4 separate regions of the Homo sapiens genome follow, and all the other regions are linked to region 3. The links come from fine-mapping of genetic effects on plasma protein levels. A gene starts in region 3. Each other region holds a variant in brackets. All regions are shown on one strand. Distances are from middle to middle.

Region 1 (7,162 bases), 23 kb after region 3:
TTTGTTTGATCCCTTTACACTCCTTTCCATCTCTTTCTTATTTCATTCCTTTTCATTCTTTTCCTTTCTTTCTATTGCATTTTATCCATTTTTATTTTTTCTTTTAATTCCTTTCAATTCATTTATTTTACATTCCATTACACTCTGTTTTATTCCAGCCCACTCAATTCCCATCCCACGACTTTATTTCGTTTCCATTCTTATTCTTCCCATCCCATTTCAGTCTTCTTATTTCCATCCATATATTTAATCCATTTCATCCGTTCTATTTCCTACCTCTCCATTCCTTCCTAGGCAATGTCCCTATTTACATTCATTTCCATTTGATTGGTTTTCACTTCATTCCACTACATTCCAGTTCTTATTCTTTATATTTCTTTTCCATTCAATTTTTCTTTTTTCCCATTCCCTTCTTTCTTTTCCATTCACTTTCTCTTCTCCATACCCTTCCCTTTCATTCAATTCTATTTCACTGTTTTCCATTCCTCTCCCTCTGTTCTCTTCAATTCCTTTCCCTTTTCATTTCTTTCCAATCCACCCCACTCTATTCTATTCCATTCCATTCTACTGCATGTTTTCTCACTTCATCCTCTCCCTTCATGCCCTTTATGGCACTTCATTCCCTTGTCTTTATTACTTTCCTTTTCAAGCTTTCCATTTAATTTCTTCTTTTCAAGTCATTCCATTCCACTCCTTTTCATTTCATTTAAGTTCTTTCCATTTCTTTCCAGTCCTTTGCATTTCCTACTCTTTATACCATTGATTTCAGTTTCATTTCATTTCATTATTTTATATTCCATGGCATTCCATTTCCCCCCTTTTCTGTTTTTTTTTTAATTTCGTTGCTTTATTTTTATTCTTTAATGTTATACTTTCCTTCTACTATATTACTTTTCTCTAATTTCCTCTCCACTTCTCTCCCCTCATTACCTTATTTTATTACTCTCTTTTCTGCTCCATTTTATTTTACTTTATTTCTTTCTTTCTGTTACAATTTTCCTTTTCATTTAATTTCTTTCATTTGCACTTCTTTGGACATCATGCCATTTTATTTCACTCCATTCTCTGCCTTTAATTTTTATTGTATTCCTTTCTGTCCTATTCAATTTCCCTCCATTTCATTTATGCCTTTGCCATCTCTTTCAGTTACATTCCTAAATAGTCTATTCCTTTTCATTCATTTCCTTTCCTTTCCAATCTTTCATTTCATTCATGATATTTACTTCCCCACATTTTTCTCATGGGAGATTTGAAGCAGTTTTTCCCATGGAAGATTTGAAGCAGTTTATATACAACACTACAAAATGGTGTTAAATTAGAAATAGAAATTACAATCAGAAAAAATATTTTTAACAATAGCAAGAAGTCAATATATGGGTAAAAAGTAAAAATATATACTGGGCCTACGTGATATCTGCCACTATATCTCTTATGTGTCTCTAAGCTTCCTGGTAACAATAAAACAGAGAGGTATGATTAGTTACATCATTCAAAAAGAAGAAAACTGGGCCAGGCGCGGTGGCTCACGCCTGTAATCCCAGCACTTTGGGAGGTGGAGGCGAGCAGATCACTTGAGGTCAGGAGTTAGAGACCAGCCTGGCCATCATGGTGAAACGCTGTCTCTACTGAAAATACAAAAATTAGCTGGGCATGGTGGCAGGCACCTGTAATCCCAGCTACTTGGGAGGCTGAGGCAGAAGAATCACTTGAACCTGGGAGGCGGAGGTTGCAGTGAGCTGAGGTCGAGCTACTGCACTCCAGCCTGGGCAACAGAACAAGACCTTGTCTCAGAAAGAAAAAAATAAAAAAGAAGAAAACTATTAGTTCATCCAGGCATAAGCAAAATTCCAGTAACAAGTTTAGAGCAGTCAAGTGATGGCTCCATAGTTCTAAGGACTAGTAGAATTATTTTAGAGAATGCAAGTGATCTCAACCCTGTCATCAGGACAGCCAGATTACTCCAATTCCAAGAATGGACTTCAGATTCTATATTCTGAACAAGCCAGTGACCAGTCAGAATTTATCCAGAGGAGGAATAAGAGAGAGGCCAGAACAGGGGCTCAAATCCATGTCCTACTGACAGGGTTTTCTTGGGTTTGGAAAAGAGAAAGTTTAGGGACAGAGAACTCCAATATTTTAGTGTCTGACAGGCTTCAAGTAGAGGGATAAATGTGTTCCTTGTTGTTCCAGAGGGCACATAAATTACCATGGAGGATAGGTAAAAGAAGGGTAGATTTTAGCCTAACAGACAGATAACTATTCTTGAAAAATGTGAATATCCTATACACCTTTTTAGTTTTTTGAGACAACGTATTGCTCTTTCACCCAGGTTGTGTGCAGTAGTGCGATCATGGCCAACTGCAGCCTCAGATTCCTGGGCTCAAGCGATCATCCCACCTTGGCCTCCCAGAGTATTGGGATTACAGACGCAAGCCACTGCACCTGGCTGAATGTTTCATATATTAATATCTTAGTCAAGAATTTTTAATGTTAAGAAAGTTAAACCCTTTGAATGTAGTTC[G/A]AATGGGGATTAATTGAGAGAACACTGAGAAATATCAGATAACTCAATTTCAGAAATTACTCCTGGGCCTCTTGGCGACTTGAATGCTATCAAGAAGCTGTTTCTCTCTTATTATACAGTTTCTCATTTTCACTAATCTATGAATTCATCTCATTCTTCTCAATCCAGATTGAATTTCTATGTAAATGTCCTGGTCATTGCTTCTCTATAACTTCAGAGTATATATAACAACATCTTCTGCTGCCCTTTAAGCATTTCTAGGTTCAAATTCTCCATAGAAGAATCAGATTGATTCAGGCCATGGTATGGATCATGTTTAGTTTTGTCAGCTCTCTAATCAGCTTTGAACTGGTAAAAACTTAGCCACCTAAGTCCCTCTCTTCACCAGTGTCTGCGTAGGGGAGCCATGTTTGTTTCCTATTATTAGTCGGGCAAAAGGTCTTCCCAGAAATACCACCTAGTAAGCTTCCTCTTATATCTCATTAGCCAGAATAAGGTCATATGGTGCTCCTTGTAGCAACAGAGGCTGAGAAAGTGGTACATTAACATTCCCAGCCTCTTCAATAGAAGCAAGCAAGGGAGGTGGTGTGGGGAAGAAGGTTAGGTCAGTCAACTCAGTGAACTCAGTGTCTGCTACATTCTGGAGGGATTAGAAGGAGCAAACCATGCAAACAGTATGAAAGGAAACATTCCAACTTGAGAGGCATCAGTAAAAAAGGCCCTGAAGAGGGTGTAGAGTTATCAGTTGCTGTATAATGAATTACCACAGACTTTGCAGCTTAAAACAACATGAATTCATTATCTCACAGTTTCTGTGGGTCAGGAGTTCAGGCATTGCTTAGTTAGCTCTTCTGCAAGGCTGTATAATCAAGGTGCCAGTCAAAGCCCAGGTCTCATCTGAGGCTCAGCTGGGGATGGATCCACTTCCAAGCTCATGTGGTCATTAGCAGCATTCAGTTCCTTGCAGGCTGTCATAATGAGGGCCTCAGTTTCTTACTGTCAGCTGGAGGTCATCCTCAGTTCTTTGCCATGTGGCCCTCTCCACAGGCAGCTCACAACATTGCATCTTGCTTCTTCAAGCCAAGACAGAAGTCATAATCTTATGTAACAGAATCACATACATGCAATCATGTATATCCTGCCACCTTTGCCATATTCTATTGGTTAGATGCAAGTCACAGGTCTTGCCCTCAAGGGGAGGAGATTACATAAAGGAATGAATACCAGGAGGCAGGGATTATGGGGACCACTTTAGAGTCTGTTTACCACAGTGGGGAAGTACATGGGCCATTCCAGGAACAGAGATGTGCCAGGGTTACTAAAGTGTGATGAGAATGGAGGAAGATTTTTGGAATTTCCAAAGAAAGGAAAGCTCCAGGCTGTTTGGGCCCCAGACTACAGTGAGTAGACTGGGAGGGTCCACCTAGCAAATGGAGCTCACATTTTCTCTTTGTTTAACAGGAGCTTGTGAATCCAGAGCCCAACACTTACATCCAAATCAACCCCTCCGTCTAATGGAAGCAGAGATCTTTTCTCCAGGAGTCCTAGAGAAACCATGCTTGATCATATATTTAATGACATTTATTAAGTGCATATTATAAGCCAGTCATTCTCTGTCATCTCTGTAGACCTTGTGATGTTCTACTGCAATGGGTTGGTCAGGCCCTGGCTTCCATAGAATCTTAGATTTTGACTCATATTTTTTTTCAAAGCAATAGTAAGGGTAAAAATGACAGCCCGTGGATCTAGAGTTAGAGGACCAAGGTTTGAGACTGAACAGCTTAGGATATCATAGTTGCAGGCTGAGGATGAGCAAACACTGTTGGTGGACTCCAGAGAGAAGAGTGAGTCTGAGTCAGCCAGAGAGGAGTAGGGGACAAAGACAGGTGTCAGAGAAGAAGTGGCTTTTCAAATCATGATAGAAGATAAGGAACAAGGAGCTCTTAAGAAATTAAGAGCTCTTAATAAAAGGAGAAAACACGTAGTGAAGTGAGGGATTGAGGCTCCTGAGGAGAGGTAGGCATGAAATGCTTAGAATCCTGAGAACTGCAGGGGCGGAGAGAGTCAGAATGAGATTTGCTGAAGGTAAAGAGAGTTAGGAGACAAGGATATCTCCATGGTTTCTTGCCAGGGCAACTGGATGATTGGCAGGTCACTTTCTGAGAAACTTTGGGATAAGGAGAGAAATAAAGAATTTGCTTCATGTCAAGAATTTAGACATGTCAAGAATCAGTTGCAGAATCAAGTAGGCAATTGTTCATAAAAATCTAGACAGATCATGGCTGGAGATACACATTTGAGAGTTGTCAGTGGGACTTAAAGTTATGGGGCTGGATGAGCTCCTCTGTCAGGGGGGTCCCCAAGACCACCTCATGCTCAAAGATTTTCTAGAGGAATTCATAGGACCCAATTGTTATACTCATGGTTATAGTTTATTACAGCAAAAGGATGGAGAATAAAATTAGCAAAGGGAAAAGGTGCATGGGGTGAAGTCTGGAGGATACCCTGCACCAGCTTCCAAGTGTTCTCTTTCAGTGGAGTCACATGGTGTATTAGTCTGCTTTCTTTGGCCTATAACAGAATATCTAAATCTGGGTAATTTGTTTTAAAAAGGAAATTTATTTCTTACAGTTATGGAGGCTTAGAAGTCTAAGGTCTAGGGGTTGCATCTGGTGAGAGCACTTCTTGCTGGTGGGGACTCTCTGTGGAGTCCTGAAGTGGTGCAGGGAATCACATGCCAAGGGGACTGAGTGTGGTAACATGTTAGCTCATGTTTCTCTTTCTTTTCTTATGAAGCTACCAGTTCCACTCCCATGATAACCCGTTAATCCATTAGTCCATGAATGGATTAATCCATTCATGAAGGCAAAACCCTCATGAGCCAATCACCTCTTAAAAACCCCCACCTCTCAATATTGCCACACTGGGGATTAAGTTTCAACATGAGTTTTGGAGGAGACAAATATCCAAACCACAGCACATGGGAAATCCCCCAGCAATGATGTGTGACAACGTGTGTGAAGCATTGCCATCGAGGGAAGCTCACCTAAACCTGGGTGTCCATGGTTTTTATAAAGGGTCAGTCACTGAAGCTCCAGACTCCTAGAAGGAAAGCAGATGTTCCTCCATAAATTACACTGTTAGTATAAACCATCTGGACAAAGTGGTACAGCATGGCTCAAGGCCTCAGGCAAACAAAAGCACTCTTACCAGATAGAACATTATGAGAGCTCAGTTCCCAGAGCTGCCCAAAGGCTAGTCAGGAAAACAGGACCTTCTGGGGAACTTACAGAGTTTGAGCAATAGGCCTGTTATGTCAACCCCAAGCAGAGTGGATGAAGACAAGGCAAGGGACAGGCTGACAGCTGATTCCTGGGTTCCTCTGATGTTTACAGGAGAGATCAAGCAAAGGAGACAAAAAAGGACTGTTAACACAGGGGGAAACCAACACTGAAAACTCCTGGAAATGAAGAGTTTTCAGAATGCGTTGTTGCTATCCTTGGAGCTGAATGGCTATCATAATGATGATAACATTAATTCAGATTTTAAAAATTAATCATTAGATGTGATACAAGAGACCGGAATTAGGATCTTAAGGGTTGCACTCAGTAGTACCAGAAACACCACCCTATTTGAACCCTGAGAACTTTCCTCTTCCCTGCCAAGAAATGTCCCCCTCCCCCTGACATCCTAGAGACAGATCATGCCCTTTTACCCTCTCGTTACTCTTACTTTGTTTTCTAGTATTTATAGTAAATGGATTCATAATCTTCTTGCTCTTCACTGTATCTTGAGCCCTTATCCAATTCATGGCCAATAAACAGAATCTTAATATAAACTTTGGTCTCAGCTCTTCCCGACAGTTGACAGATAAATCTCTAGATTAGATAGGCATCTTTCTAGAATGTTCCTGAGTGGTAACTCTTTAAAATTTTTATTTATTCATTTATTTATTTTGAGACAGGGTCTGGCTCTGTCGCTGAGGCTGGAGTGTAGTAGCATAATCTTGGTTCACTGCAACCTCTGCTTCCTGGGCTCAGGCAATCCTTCCTGCCTCAGCCTCCTGAGTAGCTGGGACTACAGCTTGTGCCACCAGGCCCAGCTAATTTTTGTATTTTTTGTAGAGACGGGGTTTCACCATGTTGCCCAGGCTGGTCTCAAACTCCTGGGCTCAAGTGATCCTCCTGCTCCGGCTTCCCAAAGTGTGGGGATTACAGGCGTGAGCCACTGCGCCCAGCAGTGGTAACTCTTCTAAAGTCCCTGTAATATTCAGGTTAAGTCAGGATTTATAGGTTCCTGGAAGTAAACATTACCACCTTGTTCATTGTGAAAGAAAATAAAAAAGACTAAACAAAAGACAGATAAACAAAGTCAGTTTTACATTACATAGTACTAACGCTTTATTTTCTGAAAATTGTTTTTTTTTTTTGAGATGGAGTCTTGCTCTGTTGCCCAGGATGGAGTGTAGCAACGTGATCTTGGCTCATTGCAGCCTCTGCCTCCCAGGTTCAAGCGATTCTTCTGCCTCAGACTCCTGAGTAGCTGGGATTACAGGCGTGCATCACCATGCCTGTCTAATTTTTGTATTTTTTAAGTAGACACAGAGTTTTGCCATGTTGGCCAGACTGGTCTTGAACTCTT
Region 2 (8,023 bases), 34 kb after region 3:
ATGTCCGGGTTGATGGAGTGCTCCATTGCAGATTGTGGTTTCTGGAGAGGAGGGGCTGTGCCACTGTCCCTTTACTCTTGATCAGGTATTTGGGTAGGAAGCAAAAGGTTGTAGGTAAGATTCCGAGCAGGTGGCTCTGGGCCCCTAGAGCAGACAACGCGCTTCTCCAAGGTCTGGGGGCGCTGTGGTTGGTGGAGAGACCAGATTGGAGTTGCAGATTCTTGTGCCAGAAGAGGCAGTGTTGCTAGTGAACCCTTGGTGGGAATTACCCATGGGCAGCAAACTCCCAGGCTGAAGGAGGGTATCAGGGCCTAGAAACAGGTTCTGGGCAGAGGGCCCCCTGCACGTCCTGGGGGTGTCTGAATGGAAAACAGAAACTTGAACTGATAGTAGGGACCTATGTAGGATAGTGCAGAGCTCTAGAGCATTCAAGATGGGCAGAGACTCCGGGTTGGAGATACAGAATTTAAGTCCAGGAAGGACAGAGCTGCAACAGCTGCCATCAAATTGGTAGCTGGGGAGGAAGCAGTATGTTGCCAGCATCGTTATGAAGCAGGTGTTGCTGAGACCTTTACTTGGGTACGCTATTTGCAGGCGTGAGAATGTGCAGGTTAGTAGAGGGACAGAGCCTGTGCTGCAGATTTGGTCCCGGGAAGAGCTGACTGCACAACACCCAGGCCGTCATGATTGGGCAAGAGAAGGACAAAGGGCCCAGTTCCCATTGAGCTGCTGTATCGTAGGCTCGAGAACCCCCACGCTGGCGAGTGCCCAAGTCCTGGGGCTGATTATGGAGCTGTATGCTCAAGCTACTGTTTAGTTGTTGTAGTGTCCTGGCTGCGGGCAAATAGTGGGGCAGTTGACCCCAGAACCTACACAGAGGCTGTGGGTACCTGAGATGTCCCAGGCAGGTTGAGACACAGGGTGAGGGATGTAGATTGTTGACTCAGGAGCATGGTGTGCCCCCAGACGGGCAGAGGAGCCAGGTCCTGGATGCAGATTGTGAGCACGAACCTGCTCTGTGGCTGTATCAGTAGGAGGGAGTCTAGGTGGGTGGCCCGTGTGCAGTGGCTGTGGAATAGAGGCCTGGGGGCTCCAGTTTGGATCTGGTCTTAGGAGGCACGGGGCTGCTCCAGCAACACTCTGCACGTGTGCTGGCATTTGGGCAGATTGGGGAGGCATGGGCAGTCCTAGGACCCTGATTCTGCCTGAGGATGCCCAGGTGTGTGGGGGGGAGCAGCTGCAGAGGGGCGGGACTGTGTCAGGCACCCCTTGTGCACACACACCGGTGTTTGGTTGGGAAACAGGAGGCCGGAGATGAGTTTTAGACAGAGGGTGCTGGGGTCTTTGTGTGATTGGAACCCTGATCACAGCCTGATGGTGCCCAGTTTGGTGGAAAGACAGGATCTTCCTGAGCCACAGGTGCCCCCGAAAGATGTTTGGTCAGAATCTGGGCAGGTGTGGCTCAAGCAGGGGGCTGTGGAGTAAGGTGGAGGAAACAGTTTGGGTGCAATTTCAGGAAACAGCTGCATTGTGAACCTACGCTATGCTGCGTGAGAATATGGTGGGAGCAGGGGAGAGAGTAAGTGGGAGAGATGGAGTGCAGAGGGTGGGGTGCCTAGGGTAGGATTTGCCCTCTAGTCTTGGATCCCAAAACACCTAGTTGGTACAGAGGCACCTGAGCTTCTGAGACATGTATTTAGAGCCTGGGTAGGGCTGCTTTTGTCTGGCTTGTGCTGGTGTCTGTTGGAGGCCCCCAGCCCTATGCAGGCCTTGTTGTAGTTTCAGGCCTGAGTATACCCAAGTTGGTGGAGGGACTGGTTTAGAGCTACAAATTCAGGGCCTGGGAGGGTGTTAGGGTGGGAATCTGGCTGGTGCTGTTCGAGTAGGAGCCAGTGGACCCCAGAAGTGTGGAGGGAACAGGATGTGGGTATAGCTGAGCTCTGTGCATAAATGCTTGGCTATTTGAGCAGGATGTGGGTGGCCCTCTGTGCTGAGTTGCTGGAGGGACAGGTCTGGCTGATGGAACGGTAGGATCAGTCTTAGTTGTTGAATCAGTTCCTGGGAGCAGTGGAGCTGTGTCACCAGCTTCATGCAGTTAGGCAGTGAGTGTGATTCTGGCCCTAGGAAGAAGTGCTGGTTTGGGGCTGTAGATTGAGGTTGGTAGGGGTAGGATGGGGTGAACACCAGGGGGTCCTCAATATGCCTGATATTTGTGGGGATCCCAGGGCCCAGTGAATAGGAGAGGGATGGACTGGTGCTGCAGACTTTGGTGGTGGGCAGAAGGCCATGTTGGGCACAAGCTGGGCTTACAGGTAGATGGTCCAGGGGCCCAAGATGGTGGAGGAACCAGGTTGGAGCTGCAGAAACTTGACCTGGGAGAGGGACTGAGGGACTCTCAGTACATACACAGGTATTTGGGCAGGAAGCTGGCAGGAACCTCCAGAAGTGCATTTGCTATGGGAATGCATCCTGCATCCTGGGAGCAGGGGCTAATGGGGGTGGGGGGCCCAGCGGTTCCGGCAGACCTACATCTTCATGCTGTACTTGGGGCTTCTCTCAGTGCAGCTCAGGACCTCAGCACCCTGCTGTGCCTGGAGGAGAGCATGGAAGAGCAGGATGAGAAGCCCCCAGAGCCCCCGAAGGTCTGTGCACAGGTGAGTGGAGACCCAGAGCTTGGGTCTGTCTGCAGCCTGACCCTCTCAGCTTGGGAGGCTGTGGCTCCTCCCTGACTCTCTTTGCAGCCTTTTAGGGGGTTTGAGGCCCTCATGGCCATCAGGCTTCTAACACTTACTATATATTTTATGAATCTCCCTGCTAGTTGCCTCACCTTTTTAGCCCAGATAACTCTTTCTGGAAGGAATTTGGCATCCTGAATCAAAAGCCCTTAAAATGCTGATTCCCTTTTGGCCAGCAATTCACAGCTTTGAGAATGAACAATTGGAAATATACTAAATGTGCAATGTAAGAGGATAGCTGAATGAATTACGATAAGACCATGAAATAGAATACACTGTAGCCATTGAAACTGATGATAATGCAAATTTAATGACAGAAAAAGTTATTTATTACCTATGTTAAGTAAATTGCACTTAGAAATCATCACTTTTTAAAAAGAGATATAGTTTTTGGGTATATAGAAAATATGTTAGAAGACTATAAATATAGCAATCAGTTAACAAACATTATCTGTAGTTGTTTTATCATTTATTTATCTGTATTTTCTTTTTCTTTTCTTTCTTCTTTTTTTTTTTTTTTTTTTTTTTTTGAGACAGAGTCTTGCTCTGTCGTCCAGGTTGGAGTGCAGTGACACAATCCTAGCTCACTGC[C/T]GCCTCAAACTTCTGGGCTCAAGCCATCCTCCTGCCTCAGCCGCCTGAATAGGTGGGACTACAGGTGGGCACCACCAAGCCTGGCTTATATTTTTTGTGTGTGTGTATTTTAAAAATTTTTTGTAGAAACGATATCTCACTATGTTTTCCAGGCTGGTCTCGAACTCCTGGCTTCAAGCCATCCTCCCACCTCAACTTCCCAAAGTGCTAGGATTACAGATATAAGCTACCACACCTGGCTTGTATTTTCATATTTTTGTACAGTACACTTTAAGGTAAAAATATTGACAATTGGCCAAGCACAGTGGTTCACACCTATAATCCCAGTACTTTGGGAGGCCGAGGTGGGAGGATTGCTTGAGGCCAGGAGTACAGGACCAGCCTGGGCAACATAGTGAGACCCTGTCTCTATAAAAAATTTTAAAAATTAGCCAGGATAGTGGTGTCCACCTATAGTCCCAGATACTTGAGTGGGTGAGGTGGGAGGATCGCCTGAGCCCAGGAGGTCTAGGATGTAGTAAGCTATGATTGTGTCACTGCACTGCAGCCTGGACAACAGAGTGAGACTCTGTCTCTAAAAAACAAGTTAACAATTTAGAACATTTCCCACCGCAAATATTCTTTGAAAACTCTTAATTTCTTAAAACTGTTAAATTAGAGCTTCTCCTTTCTCTTCCTGAACAAGTCAGCCTTGAAGCCGTGAGGTGGGGCAGTGTTAGGGGGCACCTACAGTTGTCAGGACTGCCTGCTGTGAAGAGAGTGTCCATGTGCAGGGTGTCAGTGACCAAGCAGGGTGAGGAGTGCATCTGCACAGGATGACATCCCAGCATAGTCAGAGCCCAAGTGGAATGAAGAAGTCGCTTGTGCACGTGGTGCAGCCCAATGTGGGTGTCAGAGCCCAAGTGGCTGAGGCCAGTGTCCATATATGGAGATCTGGTGTGGGGTGATGGGGTCAGAGCAGGTGAGCAAGGCATCCAGAGAGGGGGTGCTTCATTGTGGGTAGTTGGAGCCCAAGTGCAGTGAGCAGGTGTCCATGGTAGATGGGGTGTTGGAGCCAGAGTGGGGTGAGATGTGCACCTGTGTTGGGGGTCAGGTGCAGCCTGGTGTGGCATGTCAGAGCATGAGCATGTTGAGGGCATCATGCGTGAGGGTGGCCTGCAGGGGTGTCAGAGCCCAGCGGCATGTGGAGGGTACTGACACAGTGGGGTGGCCTGACGTGGGCTGTCCAAGTCCAAGTGGCAGAGGAGTGAGTCTGAGAGATGGGGCAGCCTAGCCCGGGGAGTCAAAGCCTAAGCAGGGTGAGGAGCTCCCCTGGGCAGAGGGTGGCCGAGTGTGGGGTGGCAGAGCCCAGGGAGTCTGGGAAAGCATCCATAGGGAGAGGGCGTCATTGTGGAAATGGGAGAGGAACTACCTACAGGGGGCTAGATCAGATAAGTAAGTGTATATATAAGGGACTGGAGCCAGGCGCCTTGCCATCAAATCAGGGAGGTACAGATACGGCAAGAAAGAACATTTGAGTGGACTCTGGTGTGCAGTGGGAATTGGAGGTTTTATTGTGGGCTCATGGTTTTCAGTACACATTAATCTAGAAATATATAGAGATGTGTGCTTGTATCGGTGTGCGTATGTGTGCACACAGATTCCCTGTCTGTCCGCGGAGGGCTGGGAGCAGTGACATCCTAATACCACTACGCATACCTAGTGCCCACATTTCACCTTCTAAATATGTTACAGGTTTTATGGGTTTATTGTTAATGGCTCTTTAGTGTTACATTTTTTTGCTGTTACAAATAGCATTGATATAAATGTTTTGTATGGGATTCCATGTATACATGTGCAATTGTTTTAGAAAGAGTTAAGCAAATATAAGTTTACATTTATATCTTTATCAAAACTACAGGTAAAATGTGTGGGGTTTTGTTATTTTGTTGTTTTTTAAGAGACAGGGTCTCACTCTGTCACCCAGTCTGGAGTACATGGCACACCAGCATAGATCACTGCAGCCTGGAATTTCTGCGCTCAAGTGATCCTCCCACCTCAACCTCCTGAGTATTTGGGACTACAGGTGCACACCACCACGCCCAGCTAATTTTTTTATTTTTTACTTTTTGTAGAGACAGGGTCTCGCTGTGTTGCTCAGGCTGGTCTCGAACTCCTGGGATCATGCCATCCTCCCACCTTGGCCTCCCAAAGTGCCGGGATTACGGGGTGAGCCGCAGTGCCTGGCTGGTAGAATGTGTTTTGATGTGGTCATTGGTGTTCTAATTTAAGCGAGGCACTAGGTGTTTTCTGGGACTCTTAATGGTCCTTTTACCATTTTCTTTTTTGTGAGCTGAATTAGAAGTCTGTTCATTATATGACTTTTGTCACATATTTATTGACTGCCTAACCAGTGTAAGGCCCTGTGCAAAGCACTGTGGGGAAAGATGAGACAGACAGCACTGCCCTGCACGACTTAGTTCTCACAACCAGAAACGCGCTTCTTATACTTTCCAAGGCTACATAGGGAAAGCAAAAACATCCTGTTTGTTGTATTAGTTATCTGTTATTACATACCCCAAAATTTTGCAGCTTAAAATAGCCAATGTTTATTTCGTCACACAATTTCTGAGGGTCAGGAATCCAGGTCAGCTTAACTGGTTGTTTCTGGTGCTCAGGGTCCCTGATGAGGTTGCAGGCAAGTTGTTGTCTGGGCTGCTGACTTCTGAAGGCTTGACTAGGTGGGAGGATATTGTTGCAAACTCACTCAGATGGCTGTTGGCAAGAGGTGCTGTACACCAGAGAGGCCTCTTTCCAGGGCGTTCACAGCATAGCAGTGGATTTCTGCCAGAGCAGGTGATCCCAGTGAGAGAGAGAGAGAGAGCAAGAGCACTTAGTTGCACACAATCAAGATGAAGCCACAATGTCTTTTATCATCTGATTTCAGAAGTGACACACCATCACTTCTTCCATATTCTGTTGGTCACACAGACCCACCTTGGTACCATTGGTCAAGGACTACACAAAGGCATGAATACTAGGTAGTAAGGGTCTTTGGGAGCCATCTCAGAGTCTGGCTACCACACTTCTCAACTCTGAATGTCCTCTAGTTAATTTTAATTATTATCAGAAGATGAACAAGTACTTGATTTGGACCTGAAGGATATTAGAACCCTGGAAGGGAGAGAAAAATCAAGGGAGCCAAAGTCTTTGCTTTGAACGAAGGCCACGAGTCCAGTGAGCTGATCTAGGAAGAAACCATCTGGGTATTGGGGCATCACCTTAGAGATTTTAGTGGCTCATACACAGGAAGTAGCAGCTGGTCCAGCGAAGGCCTTGAGCCAACTCTGAGCCCTACCTGCCTTCAGGGACTGAGACCAAAACTGCTGCCAAGTAGGTGGTAGAATCTCACCCATCCACTGTCATTCTCAACATTCGAAGTTGTGCAGGTTGTTGGTGGCCCTATGTGGATGGTCTATTCTGTGTATTTCAGGACAGTGAGAATTATTCATGGATGATAAGGTGGGGCAGGAGAGGGAATTTTCTTGTGCGTGAGGACTAAAGGGATCCTCTTGTCAGGATGATTTCTGAGAAAATCAGGGAAGGGAACCTTCTTTCCAGTGCTGTAGTTTGTGAATATTGGTTTTACGCCTTCTAGATTTGGTGATTAAGAAACCTCAGGGCCTCCCACATGGGCCCTGTGGACGCCATATCCCTTGAGCTGAAATGTGAGCTCCACCTTCCAGCTCCCAGGGCAGGAAGAGATGGAAACACACCAAGAAGTCTGCCTGTGTGACGCCTGTGTTTTCTAAATGTTCTCACAGATATAGAGGGTTTCCTGCCAGTAGACCCCCAAAGCAAAGCTCTGAGAATTGAGTCCAGTAATATTTCTGTGATTTGATTAGAAACTTCATTTTATTGCCCCAAGAATACCTCAGATTGGGAAAGGAATATTTGGTCATCTCTATTTATAGGTGAGCAAATAGCCCTAGCCCTAGGTCTGATTTGACCACTGTCTTACTATGAAGCGGACAGGTCACTCCATGATAGCTCTGCTTGTCTCTTTCCCCCTGCTTTGGTTCCCATGGGGTCCCACATACATTACAGAAGGAACAATTATTATCTCCTGCCCACAACCCTTTTCTCTGTGCAAGTCAACAGTCTAATTCCTGTTCCCATTTCGTAAAGTCTGCAAAGAAAAAGGGAAATGCTCCTTTATGACCTAGAGAGGTGACTGTTGAACAAGAGGGTAATTTAAAGATGCTCCAGAGCATACAGAAAGTAGAGTAAAAGTTTTTAATTCTATTCCTATGTCCCAAACTCTGCACGTGTCTCTAGTCTTGTCAAATGCAGAGAACTTTTATTGTGCTCCTACTCAATACTGAGGAGAATACAAAGATAAAAAATACACAGTGCTTTCTAATATAGAACCCAGGACCCAGGGGAGAGGTATATAGAAATGGTAGTAATATGAAGAGAATAATTTTACTGGTATAGTAAAGGGCCACCAAAGCTAAGAAGTCCTGAGAGAAGAAGAGATGAAGCTTTCTGCTATCTGGGAACGCTTCATGGAGGAGGTGGCATTTGATCTGGGCCTTGGGTGATTAGACAGACTTTGGTAAGACAGTGGGAAGCAGAAGAGTTTGTGTCAGGCAATCAGTGGACTTAAATGAGCTTACTAAACCTTATTACCATTAATTTCTGCATTGGTGAAATAG
Region 3 (8,023 bases):
GATGGGGATCTCCCTATGTTGTCCAGGCTGGTCTTGAACTCCTGGGCTCAAGTGATTCTTCCACCTCAGCTTCCCAAAGTGCTGGGATTACAGGCATGAGCCACTGTGGCTGGCTACGTTTTCTAATTTTTTTAAAAAAAAATTAATTTTAATATTTTCATGTTTTTAAATGTTTAAAAAAGCACATTTATTTATTTACTTTGAGATGGGATCTTGCTACATTGCCCAGGCTGGTCTTAAACTCCTGGGTTCAAGTGATCCTCCTGCCTCAGCCTCCCGAAATGTCGAGATTACAGGCATGAGCCACTGTGCCCAGCCAGTTATTTTCCACGTATCTCAATTATTATCTGTCTCCCTCCTCCCCTCCCAGCACTCATTACATGTCATTTCTATAAAGGCAGAGATCTCTGTTTGTTTCATTTGCTGGCGTGCCCTGATACCTGAAACAGTGCCTGGCACATAGTAGGGCCATACAAATCTTTGCTGAGTGAATGGCCTCAGTGAGGGCACAGTCATAGGGCAGCATCCTGGGCTGGGAGGTCAGTCCCGTGGGAAGACACAATTTTGAGCCAGCCTGCATGGCTGAGACCTGGTAGGTAAGGGTGGGAAGTGGAGAGGACCTGGTTTATTTTCACCTGTTGGAAATAATTGGAAGTTGTGCTACAGGGAGGGGCCCAGAAAGTCCCTTTCTTTCCTTGGGGCAGCAAAAAACAGAATCTGCCCTGGGGGCTGAGTGGGTGAGTTGGTGGGAATTTCAGGAGAGGAAACCCTGCTTTTGCATGAAGGGGCAGATTTGGGAAGTCCATTCCAGCAGCAGCTCTGTTGTCTTGGATGGGGAGGAGGGGAAGAGGGGAGAGTGCCTCAGGGCAGAGGTGGTGGGGAGGGAAGCTGGCTTAGGAGAAGGTGGGTGGTCAGAAGGTTCAGACATTCTGGGAAGAACGAGGTGGGTGGCAGAGGCCTTGAATGCTGGGCTGGTCTGGGTCAGGCGCCTTCAGTACAGGGACCCATAGAGTCTGAAGGCGTGGCGGGGTGATGTGGCCACATTGGTGTTCATTGATCTGGGTGTACAGAAAGGTGTGGCTGGGGAATAGCGAAGGGCCCTTGGAAAAAGGCACACGCACATGGAGGTTGAGGGCCAGGGCCTGAGATGTCCTGTGACTTTATCCAAGTCATCTCACCTCTGTGAGCTTCAGTGTTTTTAACTATGGGATGGAATAATCATATTCCTTACCCCACTCTTTTTTTTTTCTCCTTCCTTTCTTCCTTCCTTCCTTCCCTCCCTCCCTCCTTTCTTTCTTTTCTTTCTTTCTTTCTTTCTTTCTTTCTTTCTTTCTTTCTTTCTTTCTTTCTTTCTTTCTTTCTTTTCTTTCTTTCTTCCTTTCTTTCCTTTCTTTCCTTTCTTTCCTTTCTTTCTCTTTCTTTCTTTCTTTTTCTTTTTTTTTTTTCAGAGTCTTGCTCCATCACCCAGGCTGGAGTGCAGCGGTGCGATCATGGCTCACTGCAGCCTCGAACTCCCAGACCCAAGCAATCCTCCCTCTTCAGCCTCCTGAGTAGCTGCAACCACAGATACGCACCACTATGCCTATTTTTTTTTATTTTAATTTTTTTGTAGAGAGGGGTGCCCAGGCTGGTCTCAAACTCCTGGGCTCAAGCAATCATCCCACCTTGGCCTCCCAAAGTGTTGGATTTATGGGCATGAGCCACTGCACCTGGCCTCGTCTGATGGTCTCATTACCTGCTATGTCCCCAGCACCTAGAACAGGCACAGTAGACACTCACGAAATATATGTTGAGTGGCTCTCGGTCAGTTCGGGCTGCTAGAACAGACCACAGAATGGGTGATTTGTAAAGAACAGAAAGCTATTTCATGCAGTTCTGGAGGCTGGAAGGCCTATATGAGGGTGGTAGCTTTGTCAGGTTCTGGTGGGGGCTCTCTTCTTGGGTGACAGACTGCTGTCTTCTTGTTGCATTCCCCACGTGGTGGAAAGTGAACAAGAGAGCTCTCTGAGGTCCCTTTTATAAGAGCACTAATCCCATTGGGAGGGACCTGATTACCTCCCAAAGTTTCTGCCTCCTAAAACCATCACGTGCAGGATCAGGATTTCTTCAACATCTGAATGACAGAGAGACAAACATTCAGTCCACAGCAGTAACAGAGTGAATGAATGCGTACCCCCTCACAGGGCTGCAGTGAGATTATGATGCAGGGCAGTCATGACATCCAGTGGGAATTCACATTTGTTGATGGCTTACGCTGTGCCAGGCATTGCTCTGAGCACTTTCCTGGCACTCACTCATTCGATCCTCACAACCGTCTTGTGCGGGGAGTCTGTGATTTCTCCCAGTCTGCAGATGGAGCACACGGAAGCATGCAAGGGTGACAAATTTTTCCCAATGAACCATGGCTGGGATGTAAAGGACTGTCTTGCCAGCCCAGGCAGCCAGCTAGCCTAGTGCTTGTAAATGGTGCCACAAGCAAGGGTGACAGATGGCCTGGCACACTGAGGTCAAGTGCTCATAACCACAGAGCTTCCTAGGAGACAAAAGCATCATCATCTACTCTGCTTTATTTTATTTTAATTGAGATGGGGTCTCACTATGTTGCCCAGGCTGGTCTTGAACTCCTGGGCTCAAGTGATCCTCCCACCTTAGCCTCCCAAAGTGCTGGGATTACAGATGTGAGCCAGTGTGCCTGGGCATCATCTCCATTTTAGAGCTGAGGAAAGTAGTCCCTAGAGAGGGGAGCTGACCTGCTGAGGCCACCCAGTTAGCAAGTCGGGGAGTCAGGATTTGAACCCATGCACTCTGGCTCCAGAGCCAGCTGGCTCGGCCTTATGCTTTATCAGGGCAGATACTTTGTGACTGCCTGTAGCAGGAGCAAGACGGAAGCAGGGCAGCAAAACGAGGCAGCTGAGTGAGTCACGATCTCTTTCTTGCAATGCCAAGCTGCCCCTCATACCCTAAGTAACAGTTCCAGAGTTTTCTAAGCCGCCTGTTGAATCATCCATCCTCTCTCACTTCCTCTATTCTAGACCCACCTGACCTTCCTTCTGTGCCCCAATTTCAAAAACTTTTCACATGCTGCTCCCCCTGGCTCACCCCTATGTTGTTCAGGTCTCAGCTACCATGTCCCCTCTTCCAGGAAGCTCTCCCTGATCCTGAAGCTGAGCCAGGCGCCCCCTTTGAATTCCTCCATCCCAGCCCTGCCCACTCTGGGTTGTCACTGTCTGGGGACAGTTCTGTCTCCCCCACTGGACTGTGAGCCTCTGTGAGAACAGGGTTGGGGCTGTCTTAGTCAGAGCTGTGTCCCCAGTACCACCAGGAGCAGGGGTCAGCATAGGAGAGAATTCAGGACTGGGCGCGACGGCTCACGTCTGTAATCCCAGCACTTCGGGAGGCTGAGGCGGGCGGATTGCTTGAGCTCATGAGTTGAAGACCAGCCTGGGCTACGTGGTGAAATTCCGTCTCTACTAAAAATACAAAAATTAGCTGGGTGTGGAGGCGCACGCCTGTAGTTGCAGCTACTAGGCAGGCTGAGGCAGGAGAATTACTTGAGCCTGGGAGGTGGAGGTTGCAGGGAGGGGAAATCATGCCACTGCACTCCAGCCTGGGCAACAGAGCAAGACTCCATCTCAAAAAAAAAAAAAAGGAAGAGAATTCAGGAAGTATTTGTTAAATTAATGGATGGATACATGGATTAATGATAGTTCCCTCAGCTGGTCGGTTCTGTTAAATCTTCTGGGTCTAGGTCTATACACTGTCAAAGACCACCAGCTTGTCTTGTCATAGAGATTTTTTTTTAAGTAACTTTTATATATGGAACCTTTACTATGTTCTCGAAGTTTCAGCTCAGATGTCCACTCCTCCAGGAGGCCCTCCCTGCCCCTTCTCCCAAGACCACGTCAGGCTCCTCCTGGAGGTCCCCCAGTCCTGCTCAGTCTGAGATTCCTGCCGGTCTGACTCCAGAGCTTTTGTTTATGACCAGGATCTATATCACAAGCATGATTCCGGCTCATTTAATATTTATTGGCTGCTTATAATGAACTTGGCACTGGGACTGGTTATTAAGCTCTCGGGGACAAGGAGCTGGTCATTGTTGTTTTTTATTATCATTGCTATTGACTATCGTAATCGCAGTTCCCGGTCTCCAGGGTTCCTGGACTTCCCGCTCTTTGTGCTGGGCAGGGAAGGAAAGTGAGCCCTGGGGGTAGAGGGCAGAGGTGGGGTCAAAGTTACTTTCCTGCCACCACCCCTGTCTGTCCTGGGAGCTGCAGTTACTGCAGTGTGTGTGTGAGTTTGTAGCAGGGTGGGAGAGGAGAGAAGGGAGGTGGAGGGGCTGCACCTGGAGTGAGGACTGTATCTGTGTGTGCAAGCCGGGGCGACAGACGGCCTGGCACACTGAAGTCAGGTGCCGGGACCCATGGGGCCTGCTGACTCATGGGGACACCACTGGATGGGAATCCTGCTTTCAGGTGAGTGCCCTGCTTCCTTCAGATGCGGGAGGAGGGAGGTTGTATGCATCTATTTGTCAGCGGTGTGTGTGTGTGTGTGTGTGTGTGTGTGTGTGTGTGTGTGCACTCGAGGAAAAAGAGATGGAGGCAGAGAAAAAAAATAGAGACACAGAGACAGAGACAGAAATAAAGACAGATACAGATATAAAGATAGGGCCAGGCGTGGTGGCTCACATCTGTAATCCCAGCACTTTGGGAGGCCGAGGTGGGTGGATCACTTGAGGCCAGGAGTTTGAGACCAGCCTGGCCAGCATGGCAAACCCCCGTCTCTACTAAAAATACAAAAATTAGCTGGGTGTGGTGGTACACTCCTATAGTCCCAGCTATTTGGGAGGCTGAGGTAGGAGAATCACTTGAACCTTGAACTCGGAGGTGGAAGCTGCAGTGAGCTGAGATGACACCATAGCACTCTAGTTTGAGTGACACAGCAAGACCCTGTCTCAAAAAAAAAAAAAAAAAAAAGAAAGAAAGAGAGAAATACAGAAATAAACATAGATACAAAAGAGATAGAAGGAGACATAAACAGAGACCAGAGACAGAGAGACAAAGATATATGTATATTTGTCAGTGGTGTGTGTGTGTGTGTGTATACTTGAGGAAAGAGTGACAGAGGCAGAGAGAGAAACAGACACAGAGAGACAGAGACAGAAAAAAATACAGATGCAAGAGACTGACAGAAGGAGACATAAACAGAGACCAGAGACAAGAGAGAAAGACAAAGATGTGTGTTTGTGTGTCTGTGTACACAGAGAAAGAGAGAGAGACAGAGAAAGATGGAGTCACAGCCACAGAACCAGAGACCCAGGGAGAAAGAGAGAGAAATACAGGGAGAAGAGATACGCACAGAGACAGAGACAAAGGGTGAAAAAATAACCTTAGAAATGATACCAGTGGGGCCCAGGCACAGTGGCTCACGCCTGTAATCCCAGCACTTTGGGGGGCCAAGGCGGGTGGATCACGCAGTCAGGAGTTCAAGACCAGCCTAGCCAAGATGGTGAAACCGTCTCTACTAAAAATACGAAAATTAGCTGAGTGTGGTGGCGGGCACCTGTAATCCCAGCTACTCGGGAGGCTGAGGCAGATAATTGCTTGAACCTGGGAGGCAGAAGTTGCAGTGAACCGAGATTGTGCCATTACACTCCAGCCTGTGTGACAGAGTAAGACTCTGTCAAAAAAAAGAAAAAGAAGAAAGAAAGAGGGAAAGGGAGAGAGAGAAAGAAAGGAAAGAAAGAAAGGAAAGAAAGAAAGGAAAGAAAGAAAAGAAAGAAAGAAAAGAAAGAAAGAGATACCAGTGGGAAAAACAGGAAGGGGCAGAAAGAGAGGGAGACAGAGGACAAAGAGACAGGGAAAGAACTGGGTAAATACACAGCCAGAAATAGATTCAGAAACGCGGGGAGAGAGTTGGAGTATCACAGAGATTCAGACAAGCAGATGAGAGACAGGTGGAGGGAGGCTGTGCCAGCCCTGAGCGGCCAGGTCCACGGATCAGGATGGGGATGGATGTGAAATTTCTGCCTAGAAGGCATCTGAGACAAAAGGCAGAAACTAGAATATTTTGATGAAAAAAGTATTTTGGAAGTGAAGACATGATTTTGCAACAGGTCATGTGCAGAGGTGAGGGCTCAGCCCAGCCTTGCTGTGTGTCCCTGAGACCAGCTTCTCCTTCTCTGGGCCGGCGCTTCCTGGCTAACCCTGGAAGGGTGCAGGGGCTCTGTAGTCCTGGGAGGCTGAGAGTTATCAGCCGCATCCACAGTGAGTCTGTAAGTGTTGCCTCTTCCTGGTAGGACAACGGCAGGACCCTGTGAGAAGAAAGCCAGAGGGAAGGGGCCATGGCAGGCTTTCCACAGAGAGGCTTCCTGTCTCGGGTGGGTATGATGAGGCCCCATCAGTGCTTTTGCTTACATCATTTCACTTATCCTTATGACAGTTAAGTGAGGCTGGAACTGTTACTACCGCCATTTTTCAAATGGGGAAACTGAGGCTCAGATAGGGAACATCACTTGACCAAATAAATGGCAAAGATGAGATTCAAACCCAGGTGGTCAGGCTCTGAGGCTGTGAGCCTAACCTCTAATAGCATTTGAGGCAGAGAAACCACAGACACAAGAACTCATCATCAAGACCACCACCATCATCATCATCGTTGCCATCATGGTGGCTGAATATTTGCTATGAACTGTGTTAAGCATGCCACATTTGATATCTCACTCAGCCTTCACAACCACCAGATGAGCTGAGTTCTACTATTATCTCCATTTTTCAGTGGAAGAAACTGAGGCTCACAAAGAGAAAGTCCCTTACCCATGATAGTAGGGCTAGTAAGTGACAGAGTTCATATTTGTTCCTAAGAGCTCGTGCCCTTATTCACTCACTGGGCAGGGAATGGGGCAGTGTTTGGGCCACATTGGGGCCCTTTTGAGAAGTGCAGAGGGTCTGTGTTAATTGAGCTCATGGGAGAGATGAGATCAGTTGCGTGTGAGCACAGCTGCTGGGGTTGGGCCCCAGCAAAGTCTCGTGTTTTTTTTTTGTTTGTTTGTTTGTTTTTGAGACAAGGTCTAGCTCTGTCACCCAGGCTGGAGTGCAGTGGCACAATCTCGGCTCACGACAACCTCTTCCTCCTGGGTTCAAGAGATTCTTGTGCCTCAGCCTCCCAAGTAGCTGAGGTTACAGGTGCACATCACCATACCTGGCTAATTTTTGTATTTTTTTGTAGAGACGGGGTTTCACCATGTTGACCAGGTCTCGAACTCTTGTCCTCAAGTGATCCACCCACCTCCGCCTTCCAAAGAGCTGGGATTACAAGCATGAGCCACCGCGCCAGGTCCCATAGTCTCTTGCAGCCCCCGTAGTGGTGTGCAGAATGATCAAATGGAAAACTGGGAACTCATTTTTTTGTGTGTTTCTATTTTTTTTTTTAAGACAGGATTTTGCCGTCACCCAGGCTGGAGTGCAGTGGTGCAATCATAGCTCACTGCAGCCTCAAACTCCCAGGCTCAAGTGATCCTCCCATTTCAGACTGTAGCTGGGACTACAGATGCGGGCCAACACCCCCAGCTAATTTTAAAAATTTTTGGTAGAGACAGAGCTTCACTATGTTGCCCAGGCTGGTCTCAAATTCCTTAGCTCAAGTGATCCTCCCACTTCAGCCTCCCAAAGTCCTGAGATTACAGGCATGAGCCACCACACCCCGTTGAAAACTGGAAACCTGCTATCTTGTTCTCCTTTCCTCCCCATGCAAGTGAGATCTTGCCTGGGGCACATCAGAGGAAGTACCAAAAGTTAATATTTTTCACCAAGATCACAGTAGAAGTACCTGTTAATCAAGGGTTGGCTGTGTGGCCATCTCTGGGCTGACAGGAGGAATTACAGTGTTGAGAGCACAGTCTTCAGGGCCTGGCAGGCCAGGTTCAAGTTTAGCTTCTGCCATTGACAATACCATCTTGGTGAGTGACATCACCTCTCTGAGCATCGGTTTTTTCTCTATGTGGAATACAGGGACCATCACGTGTCTC
Region 4 (8,023 bases), 11 kb after region 3:
TCACCATCCATGCTGTGTCCAGAGAACATGAGGGCCTGTACAGGTGCTTGGTGTCCAACAGTGCCACCCACCTGTCCAGCCTGGGTACTCTGAAGGTCCGAGTACTTGGTGAGTCTCCTTTCCCGGTTCCTCTCCTTCATTCTTCTGAGCGTCAGATGCTGGCCATGTCAGAAGGAACCAGGAGTTCTTAATCCAGGGCCTTTGGATACTGTGTGAGGGAGAAATCCCTGCATGACATTGAGTTGCATGAAAAATGTTTGCGCTGTGTTCTAGAGGAAGGATCTAGGATTGTCATCAGATTTTTGAAGGGATCTTGAACTCTGAAAAAAAACCTTAAGAGGCCGGGTGCAGTGGCTCACGCCTGTAATCCCAGCACTTTGGGAGGCCGAGGTGGGCAGATCACGAGGTTAGGAGATTGAGAACACTCTGGCTACCATGGTGAAACCCTGTCTCTACTAAAAATACAAAAAATTAGCCAGGTGTGGTGGTGGGCGCCTGTAGTCCCAGCTACTCAGGAGGCTGAGGCAGGAGAATGGCATGAACCTGGGAGGCGGAGCTTGCAGGAGCTGAGATCACGCCACTGCACTCCAGCCTGGGCGACAGAGCAAGACTCTGTCTAAAAAAAAAAAAAATCTTAAGAGCCAGTGAGCTACACCAATACCCCAGAGTTTGAGGAGGACCCAGGGGGATTTCCAATGCAGCAGGGCTCCGACTACAGGGAAGGCTGGGCACACTGGCTCCTTTGCCTGGCTTGGCACATCCTGCACGAGACCCTGGTGGCTCTCTAGGGGTTGCCCATGATTTGACTCTCTGGAGGTGGGGGGTTTAACTGTCTACATTTAAAAACACTAACACAACATTCACACACTCCGTACACACACAGATAATATCCCCACATGAACAGCACACTCACGTGCATGTACAATACACACAGTAAACACAACTCATATATAATACGTACACAACTGTGCAATACCACAGACATACAACACACACTCACACAAAACATACAAACATATAGCATGCACACAACAGAGGTGTACAACTCACTCATCACAAAGTACGTAACACATCAGACATACAACACATACACACAAACCCACAACACATACAAACCCATAGCACATACACACAAACCCACAGCACATACACATATACACACAGCATATACATACAAACCCACAACACATATACACAAACTCACAACACACACACAAAATGCTCACACATACAACACATGTACAACACACATGACATACAAAACGCAGACATACATATCTCACATACATCTACACAACAAACAAGATCACATATACATGACACACTCACATAAAATATATATACACCTAATATGCACTAATGGACACACACAACACATATCATTGACATTCAGCACCTACTAAACATTACAACCATTAAACATCACAGACACTCAAGATGGACAACATGGAAAACACACCATATACCATACAGTCAACACCCTCAACACATATATACAACAGACACACAATGCACACACAAAATGCACACACATACCACATGCAGCACATACAGCATATGCACACATCACACAACACAAACACATAACACAAACAATACCACAGACACAGAACACACATTCATATACAACAAATATATACACATAGCATATACTCACATACAAAGTGCATATGTGTACCACACACATACTTCATATTCAACACATACACCCAACACACACAAGAGACGCAAAACACTTACACACCACACACTCTCCATACACACAAAACTCATTGCATATTCACATAATAATCACACGACACACATTCATCCACAAAAGACATACACGTACCCCGCACACCAGCATTATGCAAATCATATACACCACCTGTAACACACACACACACACACACACACGCACGCACTCCTGGAAAAACTTGTGGGCCCCACAAGGGCAGGAGATGAGGGAAATCTCCCTGAACCTGACTGTGTATCTCCACGTGTTTCCAGAAACACTGACCATGCCTCAAGTCGTGCCTTCAAGCCTGAACCTTGTGGAGAATGCTAGGTCTGTGGACCTGACCTGCCAAACCGTCAATCAGAGTGTGAATGTCCAGTGGTTCCTAAGTGGCCAGCCCCTCCTGCCCAGTGAGCACCTGCAGCTGTCAGCTGACAACAGGACCCTAATCATCCATGGCCTCCAGCGGAATGACACCGGGCCCTATGCCTGTGAGGTCTGGAACTGGGGCAGCCGGGCCCGGAGTGAGCCCCTTGAGCTGACCATCAACTGTGAGTCACCCAGGGCCTGGACCTTCCCCATCTCCCTGCTTCCCTCCTTCTCTTTAAGTTCTTCCTTCTAGTCATTCATGCTATGATTATTGAGCTCCTGCTCTGTGTCAGGCATGAATCTGGGCACTGGACAGGGCCAAGTGCCTGCCCTCAGGGGGCTTATGTTCTAGTGGAGAAGCCAGACCATAAACAGAGAAGCAGGTGATAAGGCTTAGGGACACCACCAGATTTAGGCTTTCACAGGGTCTCACTGGCCTTTGTCTACAGGGAGGCAAACATAGAAGTGGGGGAGAGGGGGAGTGAGAGAAGGAGTTGTATTTGTCCAGATCCTTGGAGAAGCAGACCCCAAGGTGGGATTAACGGGATTATTCATGCAAGGGTTTTATTAGGGGAAATGCTCCTGTGAGGATAACTAGGGAGGCAGCTGCAGGGAGGCTGGGAGAGCCATCAGACTGAGAGACTGAGATGCAAGTGTGACCCCGAGTGACAGGGTGAGGGACAGAGACTTGAATGGAAGCACCTGGATAACCATGCACTTGAAGGAACACCCATCATGGCTGTTGGGACCTTCCATATCTCCCAGGAAGGGGCCTGCCTTAGTTTCCTGGATGCACTCAGGTACTGGCAGGGTGCAGCCTGTGGAAGGGCTGGGAGTAGATTTGGGGGCACAGCAATTGGGCCCTTGGTCAATTACATTTCTGCCGTTGGAGGTCTTTGAAGAGCTTCTCCTGGTGGCCAGAGTTGCGCAGCAAGAGATGATAGGGCTGGACCAGAATGGCAACTGTCGGGTGTTGAGAAATGGTTGCACTGTGGATGTATTTTGAATATGCTGCTGACTGATATTAGGTGAAAGAGAAAGAAAGGAGTCAAGAATGACTGTAAGGTTTATTGCCTGAGCCACCGAAAGGATGTAGGAGTCACGAACCAAGATGGAGAAGATTGGGGGAGAAGAGGTTTCTGCAGGGAGAGAAAGGAGGGGTGCACTTTCATACATGCGAAGCAGTAGGGAACACAGAGGTAGGGGTTGAGTACATGTCTTTGCTCCTCTTTACACTTCTCTGTTGCTCACTCCTCTTTCCTTTTCAATTCAGTCATTAAACCAAAAATATATGTTTTGTGCTCTCTCTGTGCTAAGCAACATGTTGGGCATTTGATACTTGACATGATTTTCAGCTTTCACAGCCTGCTGGGGATGGGGAGGTCACTAAGCAGGCAGATAAAACATAGCATGATAAATGGGACCCCGGGGGACAAAGGGAGGGTATGGGGAGCCCAAAGGAAGCCTCCATCTGGGGGATGTTGCAAAGGGTCATCATGAATGGGGATGTCCACCATAAGAGCTGAAGGATGAGTAGGAGTAGGCTGCTTAGAGCAGAGTCAGGGAAGAGCATTCTAGACAGAGGGAAGAGAGTGTGCGATGGCCTTGAGGCAAGAGAGAGTGTAACAAGGATGGAATCTCCGAGTGGGATTTAATTCCTGAATGAGAGCAAGAGGTGTGGAAAGGTGGGGCTGGAGGGGGTCTGTAAGAATCAAATTGTAAATGGCCTCTTCAGACATAGGCTTTGTCCCAAGGGCACTGGGGAGCCACAGAGGGTTCTGAACACAGGAGGGACAGTGACACTTTAGTACTTAGGAAGACTTCTCTGGCTGCTGTGTGGAGGATGAGACTGGGATGGGGAGACCAGGAGGAGCTGGGATGCAGGTGAAGGATCCAAGTGTCAATGGGGTCAGGATGGGGAGAAATGAGCAGGTTCAAATGATGTTTAGGAGGGAGCAGAGTCAGGGTATTCCTCCCCTCCTAGAATGTCTCAATTAGCAACCTTTTGCATCCTTTC[C/T]AGTATTTTACATTAATTTAAATAAAGTATGACTCTTAAACTCTTTTAGGTTTTTTTTTTTAAATAGAGACAGGGTCTTACTATGTTGCGTAGGCTGGTCTTGAATCCCTGAACTCAAGTGATCTCCCTGCCTCAGCCTCCCAAAGTGCTGGGATTACAGGCATGAGCCTCAGCCCCAGGCCTAAACTCTTTTAATTTATATGAGAAATCCAACAACTACTTTCATTTGTTTCCTTCTTATATGTGGTGGAAGAGAAAAGTGACAATGATCCCCTCTGACATTACAAAGAAAATTTGCACGTGTTTATACCATTGAGAATACACAGTACTAGAAGTTAGGGATTATATACACAGGACGCAGCCACAATTTCCCTCCTTTCCTTCCTTCCTTCCTTCCTTCCTTTCTCTCTCTCTCTCTCTCCTTCCTTCCTTCCTTCTTGCCTGCCTGCCTGCCTGCCTGCCTGCTTTCTTCCTTCCTTCCTTCCTTCCTTCCTTCCTTCCTTCCTTCCTTCCTTCCTTCCTTCCTTCCTTCCTTTCTTTCTTTCTTTCTTTCTTTCCTCTTTCCTTTTGAGTCTCACTCTATCACCTAGGACGGAGTGCAGTGGCACAATCTTGCCTCACTGCAACTTCGGCCTCCCAGGTTCAAGTGATTCTTAGCCACTCGAGTAGCTGCAATTACAGGCATGTGCTACCACATCCAGCTAGTTTTTATTTTTATTTTTCAGTAGAGACGTGATTCGCCACACTGGTCAGGCTGGTTTTGAACTCCTGGTCTCAGGAGTTCCACTCACATCCACCTACCTCGGCTTCCCAGAGTGCTAAGATTACAGGTGTGAGCCACTGCGCTTGGCCTAGCAACAATTTCTGATGCCTGGGTGACCTAAAACACTTCTTTGAATTAACTTTTACAAAGGCAGTTTTTTTTCTTTTTTTTTTTTTTTTGAGATGGAATCTTGCTCTGTCGCCCAGGCTGGAGTGCAGTGGCATGAGCTTGGCTCACTGCAACCTCCACCACCCATGTTCAAGCAATTCTGTAGCCTCAGCCTCCCGAGTAGCTGGGACTACAGGTGCGTGCCACTACGCCCGGCTAATTTTTTGTATTTTTAGTAGATACGGGGTTTCACCATGTTAGCCAGAATGGTCTCGATCTCCTGACCTCGTGATCTGCCTGCCTCGGCCTTCCAAAGTGCTGGGATTAATTACAGGCATGAGCCACCATGCCTGGCCCTTGTTTTTGTTTTGATCTGCCCCACCCCCAGTGTTGTGGACCACACTCTGCTTGTCAGAGAGCTAAGGAGGAAAAGGGAGTATGTTCTGTTTATTTTACTGAAATTCCAAGGTGAAAGTGAATGGGGCAGAATGGGATGACTCGCTGATGGGGGCCAGGGTGCATCACGTTTGGCTTTACACACAGATGGTCCTGACCAAGTGCACATCACCAGGGAGTCGGCATCTGAGATGATCAGCACCATAGAGGCAGAGCTCAACTCCAGCCTGACCCTGCAGTGTTGGGCCGAGTCCAAGCCAGGTGCTGAGTATCGCTGGACTCTTGAACACTCCACCGGGGAGCACCTGGGTGAGCAGCTGATTATCAGGGCTCTGACCTGGGAACACGACGGGATCTACAACTGCACAGCCTCCAACTCTCTCACTGGCCTGGCCCGCTCCACTTCAGTCCTGGTCAAGGTGGTAGGTGAGTCTCTCAGGGTCGCCTTCTCCCAGGACCCGAGGGGCCTTTCCTGATGCTGGTCCCAGCTACCTAGTCTACCCCTACCGAGGGCTGGAGTGTGGCAGTCTCCACACTGCCTGAGCAGGTTCTCAGTCCACAGCTGTTGAATCCCAACCCCTAGTGGTCAGGGAAATGTAGAACCTGTACTTCCTGCTGTGTTCCCTGGAAAACTCTCCAAGCTGTTCTGAGCTTCAGTTTGTTTGCCTGTAAATTGGGTTTGTGATGTGTATTAGTCCATTTTCATGCTGCTGATAAAGACATGCTGAAGACTGGGTAATTTATAAAGAAAAAGAGGTTTAATGGACTCACAGTTCCACGTGGCCAGGGAGGTGTCACAATCATGGTGGAAGGCGAAAGGCATGTCTTACATGGTGGCAGACAAGAGAGAATGAGAACCAAGCAAAAGGGGAAACCCTTTATAAAACCATCAGATCTCGTGAGACTTATTCACTACCATGAGAACAGTATGGGGGAAACCACCCCCATGATTCAATTATCTCCCACCAGGTCCCTCCCACAACACTTGGGAATTATGGGAGCTACAATTCAAGATGAGATTTGGGTGGGGACACAGCCAAATCATATCGTGATGCCTATCTTTCAGAGTTGCTTAGAAGGACAATGAGTCAGAGATATACCCAGTGAGGGAAGGAGTGAGCTATATGGGGAATCGGAAATGATGTTAATAACAACTGGACATGACTGGCAGGGAGTCCCTGTATCTCTGTCTTTAGTTCTTGAGAAGGTAACAGTGTCACTGTTCACTGGGATTCACATCCTTCTCCAATGCTTGTTAGCTGTGTGACCTTGGACAAGTTACTTACCCTCTCTGGGCCTCTGATTTATTATCTGTAAAACATAATAATTCTGCCTATTTCTTAGGGTTGTTGAAGGTTGTGAACATTTGTAAAGTTCTTAGGGCAGTGCTTGGCATATTGTGTTTGTTAAACAAATAAAATTATTCCTTTTTTTGTGTGTGTGGCATGATCATGGGTCACTGAAGCCTCAACCTCCCACACTCAAGCTATCCTCCTACCTCAGCATCCTGAGAAGCTGGGACTACAGGTGTGCACCACCACAGCTAGCTAGTTTTTTATTTATATTTTTTTGTAGAGACGGGGCCTCCCTATGTTGCATAGGCTGGTCTCAAACTCCTGGGCTCAAGTGATCGTCCCGCTTCAGCCTCCCAACGTGCTGAGATTACAGACTTGAGCCACGAAGCTCAGCCTAAAATTATTATTTATTGAGCCTGTGCCACATGTCTGAATCCAACTTTCCCATATATAATATCAGCAAACACTTCTTGGGTACTCTCTGTCAGCCAGTTTTGAGGTGAGCCTGTTGGTTTCTTCATTGTACAGGAAGGGAAACTGAGACCTATAGACTCAAATCCTGTCATTGGGGTTTGAAACCAGGCTGGCCTCCTCAAGTTGTTCACTAAGCCTAGGACACCATTTATATCAACTTCCAAATTACCTCATTTAATCTTCAGAACAATCTTGTGGTCTTATTAAGACCATTTGATGGATGGAGCAACAGGCTCAGGGAAGGCAGCAGGGAGTTCAGTTGATGCTCACGGGGATATTGTAGGATTTGAATAAGATCATGTATGAAGGTCTCTTGGTGCTTAGAGCTTGCTAGATAGCAGCTTCTATCATCATCATCATCATCATCATCATCATCATCATCATTTGTCAAGCATCTGGTATGTATCAGGCACTGTGCTAGTAGTTTTATACAAGATCTCATTAATCCCTTCAAAAGTCTATAGAGGCCGGGCACTGTGGCTCAAGTCTGTAATCCCAGCACTTTGGGAGGTTGAGGCAGGTGGATCACATATGGTCAGGAGTTGAAGACCAGCCGGGGCAACATGGTGAAACCCAATCTCTACTAAAAATACAAAAATTAGCCAGGCGTGGTGGTGGGTACCTGTAATCACACTACTCGGGAGGCTGAGACAGGAGAATCACTTGGGAGGCAGCGAGGTTGCAGTGGTTGCAGAGGAGGGAGAGGTTGCAGTGAGCCAAGATCGTGCCACTGCACTCCAGCCTGGCCTTAAATTTTAAAATTTAAAAATTTAAAAAAAATTTTAAAAAGTCTATAGAGTTTGGAATTCTTATCCTTGCTTGGCATATAAAGAAATGGAGATGCGGCCAGGCATGGTGGCTCATGCCTGTAATCTGAGCAGTTT

Direction of the effects. Positions count from the first base shown, and alleles are read on the strand shown. Strength reflects both the effect of a copy and how common the allele is.
In carriers of allele G in region 1, the plasma level of the protein whose gene starts at base 4,255 in region 3 tends to be higher than with A alone (strong association).
For the plasma level of the protein whose gene starts at base 4,255 in region 3, allele C in region 2 goes with a higher level than allele T (strong association).
For the plasma level of the protein whose gene starts at base 4,255 in region 3, T is the low allele of the variant in region 4 and C is the other (strong association).

The links. PIP is the posterior inclusion probability: the model's chance that the variant is causal. Protein levels are from antibody-based Olink assays in UK Biobank. Linkage for the fine-mapping came from a reference panel and not from the study's own genotypes, which makes the PIPs less certain.
Region 1: its variant is fine-mapped to the plasma level of the CEACAM20 protein (UK Biobank, PIP above 0.99).
Region 2: its variant is fine-mapped to the plasma level of the CEACAM20 protein (UK Biobank, PIP above 0.99).
Region 4: its variant is fine-mapped to the plasma level of the CEACAM20 protein (UK Biobank, PIP above 0.99).

The regions. Positions count from the first base shown.
Region 1 is chr19:44,503,035-44,510,196 of GRCh38, reverse strand. CEACAM20 (CEA cell adhesion molecule 20) reads left to right here. Exons shown (of 12, transcript NM_001102597.3): 12 at 3,983-4,038. The coding sequence ends at 4,036. Among named protein-coding and RNA genes, the nearest start is that of ZNF180, 6.1 kb to the right of the region's middle. The variant G/A (reference allele first, on the strand shown) is at 2,522.
Region 2 is chr19:44,491,915-44,499,937 of GRCh38, reverse strand. It overlaps ZNF180 (zinc finger protein 180), which reads left to right. Exons shown (of 5, transcript NM_001278509.3): 2 at 2,561-2,654. The coding sequence starts at 2,604. Among named protein-coding and RNA genes, the nearest start is that of ZNF180, 4.6 kb to the left of the region's middle. RefSeq lists an enhancer at 1-146. The variant C/T (reference allele first, on the strand shown) is at 3,327.
Region 3 is chr19:44,525,907-44,533,929 of GRCh38, reverse strand. CEACAM20 (CEA cell adhesion molecule 20) reads left to right here and starts at 4,255. Exons shown (of 12, transcript NM_001102597.3): 1 at 4,255-4,472. The coding sequence starts at 4,421.
Region 4 is chr19:44,514,719-44,522,741 of GRCh38, reverse strand. It overlaps CEACAM20 (CEA cell adhesion molecule 20), which reads left to right. Exons shown (of 12, transcript NM_001102597.3): 4 at 1-108; 5 at 1,990-2,268; 6 at 5,518-5,796. Among named protein-coding and RNA genes, the nearest start is that of CEACAM20, 11 kb to the left of the region's middle. The variant C/T (reference allele first, on the strand shown) is at 4,104.